Homo sapiens: one gene and its partner. The protein of the gene in region 2 interacts with the protein of the main gene of each other region in a pairwise test. Each region holds a gene or a part of one and is shown on either strand. Other genes may lie near its edges.

Evidence for each region.
Region 1: the proteins of GBP2 (region 2) and PPP1R8 interact in a two-hybrid assay, tested with the Homo sapiens proteins (one large-scale study listed by BioGRID and IntAct).

Annotation. Positions count from the first base shown.
Region 1 is NC_000001.11:27,847,451-27,849,984, forward strand, and holds part of PPP1R8 (nuclear inhibitor of protein phosphatase 1), read left to right. Parts: intron 1-2,534. UniProt on the Homo sapiens protein: Inhibitor subunit of the major nuclear protein phosphatase-1 (PP-1). It has RNA-binding activity but does not cleave RNA and may target PP-1 to RNA-associated substrates. May also be involved in pre-mRNA splicing.
Region 2 is NC_000001.11:89,119,465-89,123,301, forward strand, and holds part of GBP2 (guanylate-binding protein 2), read right to left. Parts: exon of another isoform or gene 2,520-3,837; 5' UTR 2,503-2,519; coding exon 2,313-2,502; exon of another isoform or gene 1,807-2,312; coding exon 1,679-1,806; exon of another isoform or gene 825-1,678; coding exon 715-824; exon of another isoform or gene 1-714.

The DNA of each region.
Region 1 (2,534 bases), about 61 Mb from region 2:
GAGCTGAGGTCGCACCATTGCACTCCAGCCTGGGCAACAGAGCAAGACTCTGTCTCAAAAAAAAAAAAAAAAGAGATTGAGACCATCCTGGCCAACATGTTGAAACCCTGTCTCTACTAAAAATACAAAAATTAGCTGGGTGTGGTGGCGCATTCCTGTAGTCTCAGCTAACTGGGAGGTTGAGGTGGGAGAATCGCTGGAACCGGGGAGGTGGAAGTTGCAGTGAGCTGAGATGGTGCCACTGCACTCCAGCCTGGTGACAGAGCGAGACTCCATCTCAAAAAAAAAATAACCTGCTCTTTATGTGCTGTTGAGTGAGTGCTTAATTTTAAAATACATACCATGCTCCTCTCCCATTTCTCATTCTGTGGAAATGAAATCTATGTTTAGGGAATCCTGGAGTACCACAGAAAGGCTGTAGATAACTAGCCAGCTTGATGTTTCATGTAAATAATGTGCAATATGAATCTGTAAATTCATTTTCCAGAGGGGTGCAGAGAGAGGCCCACCTTCTTTTGGCCTTTCTCTTCGGACTCAAAGTAAGCTATTAGGTGGAGGAGATGCATTATTGCAATACCACACAGTTTGCCATGCCTTTATTTTATGAGTGGCAATGGCACAGATAGGAATGTCAGCCCAGATGTGGATTAAATTTAAAGATAAGTATGTTGGCTGGGTGCGGTGGCTCACGCCTGTAATCCCAGCACTTTGGGAGGCCGAGGTGGGCAGATTACAAGGTCAGGAGATCGAGACCATCCTGGCGAACACGGTGAAACCCCGTCGCTACTGAAAATACAAAAAAAAATTAGTTGGGCGTGGTGGTGGGCGCCTATAGTCCCAGCTACTCAGGAGGCTGAGGCAGGAGAATGGCGTGAACCCGGGGGGCAGAGCTTGCAGTGAGCCGAGATCACACCACTGCACTCCAGCCTGGTCGTCAGCGAGACTCCATCTAAATAAAAAAGATTGTATGTTGAAGAACCAAGGGGTAGAAGTTACAGAGATGCTCCGATCGTTCAGCATGTGGAAGAACTATCAGATAGCTAGAACTGTCCAAACAGCAACAAACTTCCCCTTAAGAGTAGTGAGATCCCTGTTAATATTCAGAAGGTGATTAGAAAATGCTGGTTAGAGATGATATAGAAAGTTTTACTTTTTATAAAAAAAAAATCTCTAAAATATATTAGACTAAGTAAGATCTGTCAGAGTTCCTGCTTAGACTTTGTTTAATCCAAAAGGAGTATAGGATTGAGCAGGATGTTTCATGAGCTTTAGTCTAGTATGGAAAAGTAGATGTTTTTCTGTGGGATTCCATAATGCCCCTTGAGCTTTTTTGTTTGTTTGTTATTCCTTTGGAATGTTTTCTTGTCATTAAAGTACAAAATCAACAGGTGTATAGTTTTATGTCAATTTTATTGCAGTATAATTTACATATAATAAAATCTACACATTTACGTATATAGTTTTGGCAAATATATGTGTAACCACCACCATAATCAAGATAGAGAAGATTTCTCTCACTCCAAAAAGTTGCCTCGTAGCCCTTTGCAGCAGCCCACTCCCAGGCCCAGGCAGCCAGTAAATATTTTCTTCACTGTAGATTGGTTTTGCTCTCAGATTAATGTTTAAAAATTGGACACCAGGTCGGGCGTGCTGGGTCACGCCTGTAATCCCAGCACTTTGGGAGGCCGAGGCGGGCTGATCACCTGAGGTCCGGAGTTCAAGACCAGCCTGACCAACATGGAGAAACCCTGTCTCTACTAAAAATACAAAATTAGCCAGGCGTGGTGGCGCATGCCTGTAATCCCAGCTACTCCGGAGGCTGAGGCAGGAGAATGGCTTGAACCCGGGAGGCAGAAGTTGCTGTGAGCTGAGATCGAGCCATTACACTCCAGCCTGGGCAACAAGAGTGAAACTCTGTCTCAAAAAAAAAAAAAAAAAAAAATTGCACACCAAACATGGACATACCACATTTTTTCCCCCTCAAAAAAGGGTAAAATATCTATTGCCATCTTTTATCATTTCCATTTCCTAAAAGGGATTTTTTTAAAAATGTTTTTTATTTTTGAGACAGAGTCTTACTCTGTCACCCAGGCTGCAGTGCAGTGGCACCATCTCAGCTCATTGCAAACTCTGCCTCAAGTGATTCTTGTGCCTCAGCCTCCCGAGTAGCTGTGATTACAGGCACCTGCCACCACGCCTGGCTAATTTTTGTATTTTTAGTAGAGATGGGGTTTTGCCATGTTGGCCAGGCTGGTCTCAAACTCCTGATCTCATGTGTTCCTCCTAAAAGGGCATTTTAATATGAAATAAGAAAGTGAGCTATGTAACTTTAGGATAAATTAAATTGATATGTTTTACTTTATGTAAAACTCACAACACCATCCTTGGCTGATGTAGGATGGTGAAAACTTTGTTATGGAGCAGTGTTTGGGAACCATCGTAGATGACTGGAAAGGTCTCTTCAAACCGTAAGATTTCAACATCATGAAATAGGTTGTCTGGAAAGGAGAACAGGCTAGAAGTTAGGAATCTTT
Region 2 (3,837 bases):
TGGAGAGTTCCAATAAGGTGATGGAACTGAGACACCAGGGTGTTAAATAATTGTCTATTGGTTGCTAGTCTCTAAAAAGACACTAGGAACTAAAATCTTTAATGAATGAAGGATGTATTTATTGGAACGTTGCTAGATAATTGCAACAAAAATAGTGGTGTAGTCTGAGGGCATATATATTAAAGAAGATTCTCTTTTTAATGGTAAAGGAATGAGAAAGTGTCCAGAACTCTAATATGGAGCAAGGAGGATACCTAACTCATCTCTTACACTTATGATATGCAAGGTATGGGATTAAAAATAGTCATCACATAAGACCACTGGAGAGGTCTGTAGGAGAAATAGTATCTATAGTGTATAGCTAGGTATCATTTAGAAGGCAACACTTAGAGCAGATGATAAGAATATAGAGAGTTGCAGAAGTGAGAACATGAGTTCTAGAGGACATTGAAGGTTTGGACAGGCATAGGAGATTAAGTCAGATAGAGGATATACAGAGTCTTGGGTGGCTGAGTATCTAACGAGACATGTAACTGGGAAGACTTGAAGTTCAGATGGAGATTGAGATAGAATGAGATGTTCAGCATAATGAGATTTATTAAAGAGAGGACTTATGAATTCTTCAGTACCTGTCTGTCTGCCTCTGTACTTGGTGAAAAAATGAAGCTGTTATTTTCTAGGTTTACTGCTGTTCTGGACCACAAAAAAGGATACTGAAGTTGGTCCATGGCCTGCTGGTTGATGGTTCCCATGCTATTGTACACGAAGGTGCTGCTCAGGAGGATGGCCAAGGCAAAGATCCAGGAGTCATTCTCATTGTCACCCTGTAAGTCATTGTAGAAGCCACAAAGAAGAATGACTAGCAGAATGTACAATCAATTCAGATAGCTGAAGACTGACTGAACTCCAACTCTGTCTCTCATTAGTTCTGAAAACTTAGGTAACTCACTTCCTTATGCAGTATTTTTTTCTACCTGTAGAACAAATTTATAATATTTATGATGTATAATTTAAGGTGTTATATATAAATATATGTCAGCAGGAAACACATGAGCACTTGGTAGGAGAAGCTATTTTGATCAGCTACTAAAATTCAAACTGGTACCCTAAACTTAGTTTATGACCCTATTCCATTTCCATGGCACATCATAGTAAGATATTTTTTACACAGTAGTTAAAATAAGCTCCTTTAATAAAAGCTTTCTATGTCTAAGATTTATAACAGTAGTAATATATTATCCTTAATGAGCAAAGATGTTATCATTAGATTTTACACTTTGCTTCTCTTTCTACTGGTGCTGGTGTGGATGTGAACATTTTTACTACCTTTGTGGGATCCCACTGTAAAAAGTCAGACATGTTTGTAAAACGTCTACTGAAGTTTATAAGCACCTTCAGCAGCCTCACCAAAACATTTTACTATAATATGAAAGAGAAATAACTGAAAACATCATTAGCCATTATTTCATAGGTTTACCCATAATTAATCAATTGAACTTATTGTGTACTCTGAATGCTTATACCACACAAATTTTAAGAAATAATATATTAATATAATTAACTAGAGCCCTAAATCAAGGAGTAGGAGTGATTGTGCAAAGATGGTTATCGATCTGACCTGGTTTATGTAGATTTTAATCTACCTAAGTGAAATTTTTAAAATACTTATTTTTTTTACCTTCTCTATATCTCCCAGGCCCTCAGTGTCGAGCAGAACTAGGGTGTGTTCTGGCTTCTTGGGATGAGGCACACACCACATCCAGATTCCCTTGGTGTGAGACTTCACTGTGGAGCCTAGAGAGAAGCCTGTAGAAGGAGAGGATAAAAGGGAAAAGAAATTACTTAGTAGGTGTTTCTGGAAATTGAGATAAAAGTTAACATAATTGAAGTTAAAAGAGATAAAAGAAAATACAACTGGCATAAATCTTAATTACAATCCTGGAAACAGGAAAATTAGATATTTAATACACACTGAAACATTCATATTTTTCTTAAAGTTCATTGAAAGCTTGCTGTCACTACATGAACATTTTAATAAATGTTTTATAAGTCATTATTATAGAAGTTAATTTTCTTTATTAACATTGTGTTCCTTCCAGAAAGGCACATTTATACCCTTAGTATAAAATAAAAGTAAAGTGGGAAGAGTCAGTTGACTGTAATCCTCCAAAGTCAATGTAAAGAGCCCATTAATGGACTGAAAGTTAGCTTTCAACATTCATTCTCATCTCTTTCTATGCTCACATCCCTAAGCTGGATGTTCGCCGTGTGTACGGACAGAAGGGGCTTAGAGCTTTGCTGGTGTCACTCACCGTTTTTCTTCCCAGCCAGCTTGTTCATCAGGTAGGATTTGCCTGTGCGATAGAGGCCCACAATCGCCACCACCACCACAGGCTGCGTAATTGCAGATAGGATCTTCAGAGCTTCTGGATTCACCACCAGCTGCCCTTTAGTGTTATCAATGAGGCTCATTGGGCCCGGCAAGTTGATCTCTGGAGCCATGTCCAGGGTGTTGTTCCCTTGTGTGCAAGGAAAAAGATGAAATGGAAAGCAGTTTTTAGGTAGTTAGCTATGCTGAACTTTACAATATGGGTTAAATTTTTGTTTTCTATGCTTGAACATTTTTTCATATACGTTTTTTAAAGCCTGGTTTCTCTTTAAGGCTGTCTTACAAATTGGGTCACTGGCTTTCTTTAAAAATAACTTTATTTTGAAATACACTTACAGAAAAGATGTACAATGGGTATGGAAAGTTCCCATATATCATTTCCCCTAAAGTTAAAATTTTCCATAACCATAGAACAAGGATTTTAACATTGGTAGAGTGATAACTAATTTACACTCCTTATTCACATTTCACCAGTTTCCCACTAATGTCCTTCTGCTCCATGACCCAATCCAGGATTCCTCATTGCATTTAGTCATTATGTTTCTGTATTTTCCTTGCATCTTTGATAGTTCCTTATTCTTTCCTTGTCTTTCATGTCTTTGACATTTTAGAAGTTGACTGGCTATGATTTTGTAGAATATCCCTCAATTTGGGTTTTTTGATGTTTCCTTATTATTAGATTGAAGTTATACATTTTTTTTTGCAAATGTCACCAAAGTGATGTTCTGCCATTTTCAGTGTCTTGTATTAAGGGATTCATGATGTTGACATGACTTTTTCTGGTGCTGTGACCTTAACTTTGATCACTTGGTTAAGGTGTTCTCTGCCAGGTTTCTCTACCACAAAGTGTTATGTACCATTTTGTCACTAAAAAGTACCATTTGAAGAGACAGTTTGAAGACTATGCAAATAAAGATTCATCATACTTCCATAATTTTTTCAGTCACTATTTTTAGCATCTGTTGATAATTCTTGCTTATAACTTACTGTGATGTTTGACTAAAAGTAATTTTCTATTTTCATTCCTTCTACATTTATTAGAGTTCTAATGTGAGCAAGAACTGCCCTTTCTCCTCTATTTATTTTATTTACTTATTTAATCATTTAGTTGTATCAGTGTAGATCTATAGTAGATCAGTGTAGATTTATCATATGGGTAACACTTTACTATCACTATTTATCTCATTGCTCAACTCGTCCCAGATTAGTTCACTGAGAGCTCCTTCAAGCTGTAGCCCAGGTACTATGGACGTGCTTCCATCATATTTTCAGTGCGTCTTTCCTTCTGACATTACAATATATGCCAGGCTTATCTAATATTTTTTCTGCTTCAGCCTTAGAATCGACCATTTCTCCCAAGGGCTCTGGTTGCTTTCATTGGATAATGGTAGATAGACAACAAGATTATCACACTAGGTGTAGTCATTACTTCTAGGCCCTCTCAGGTG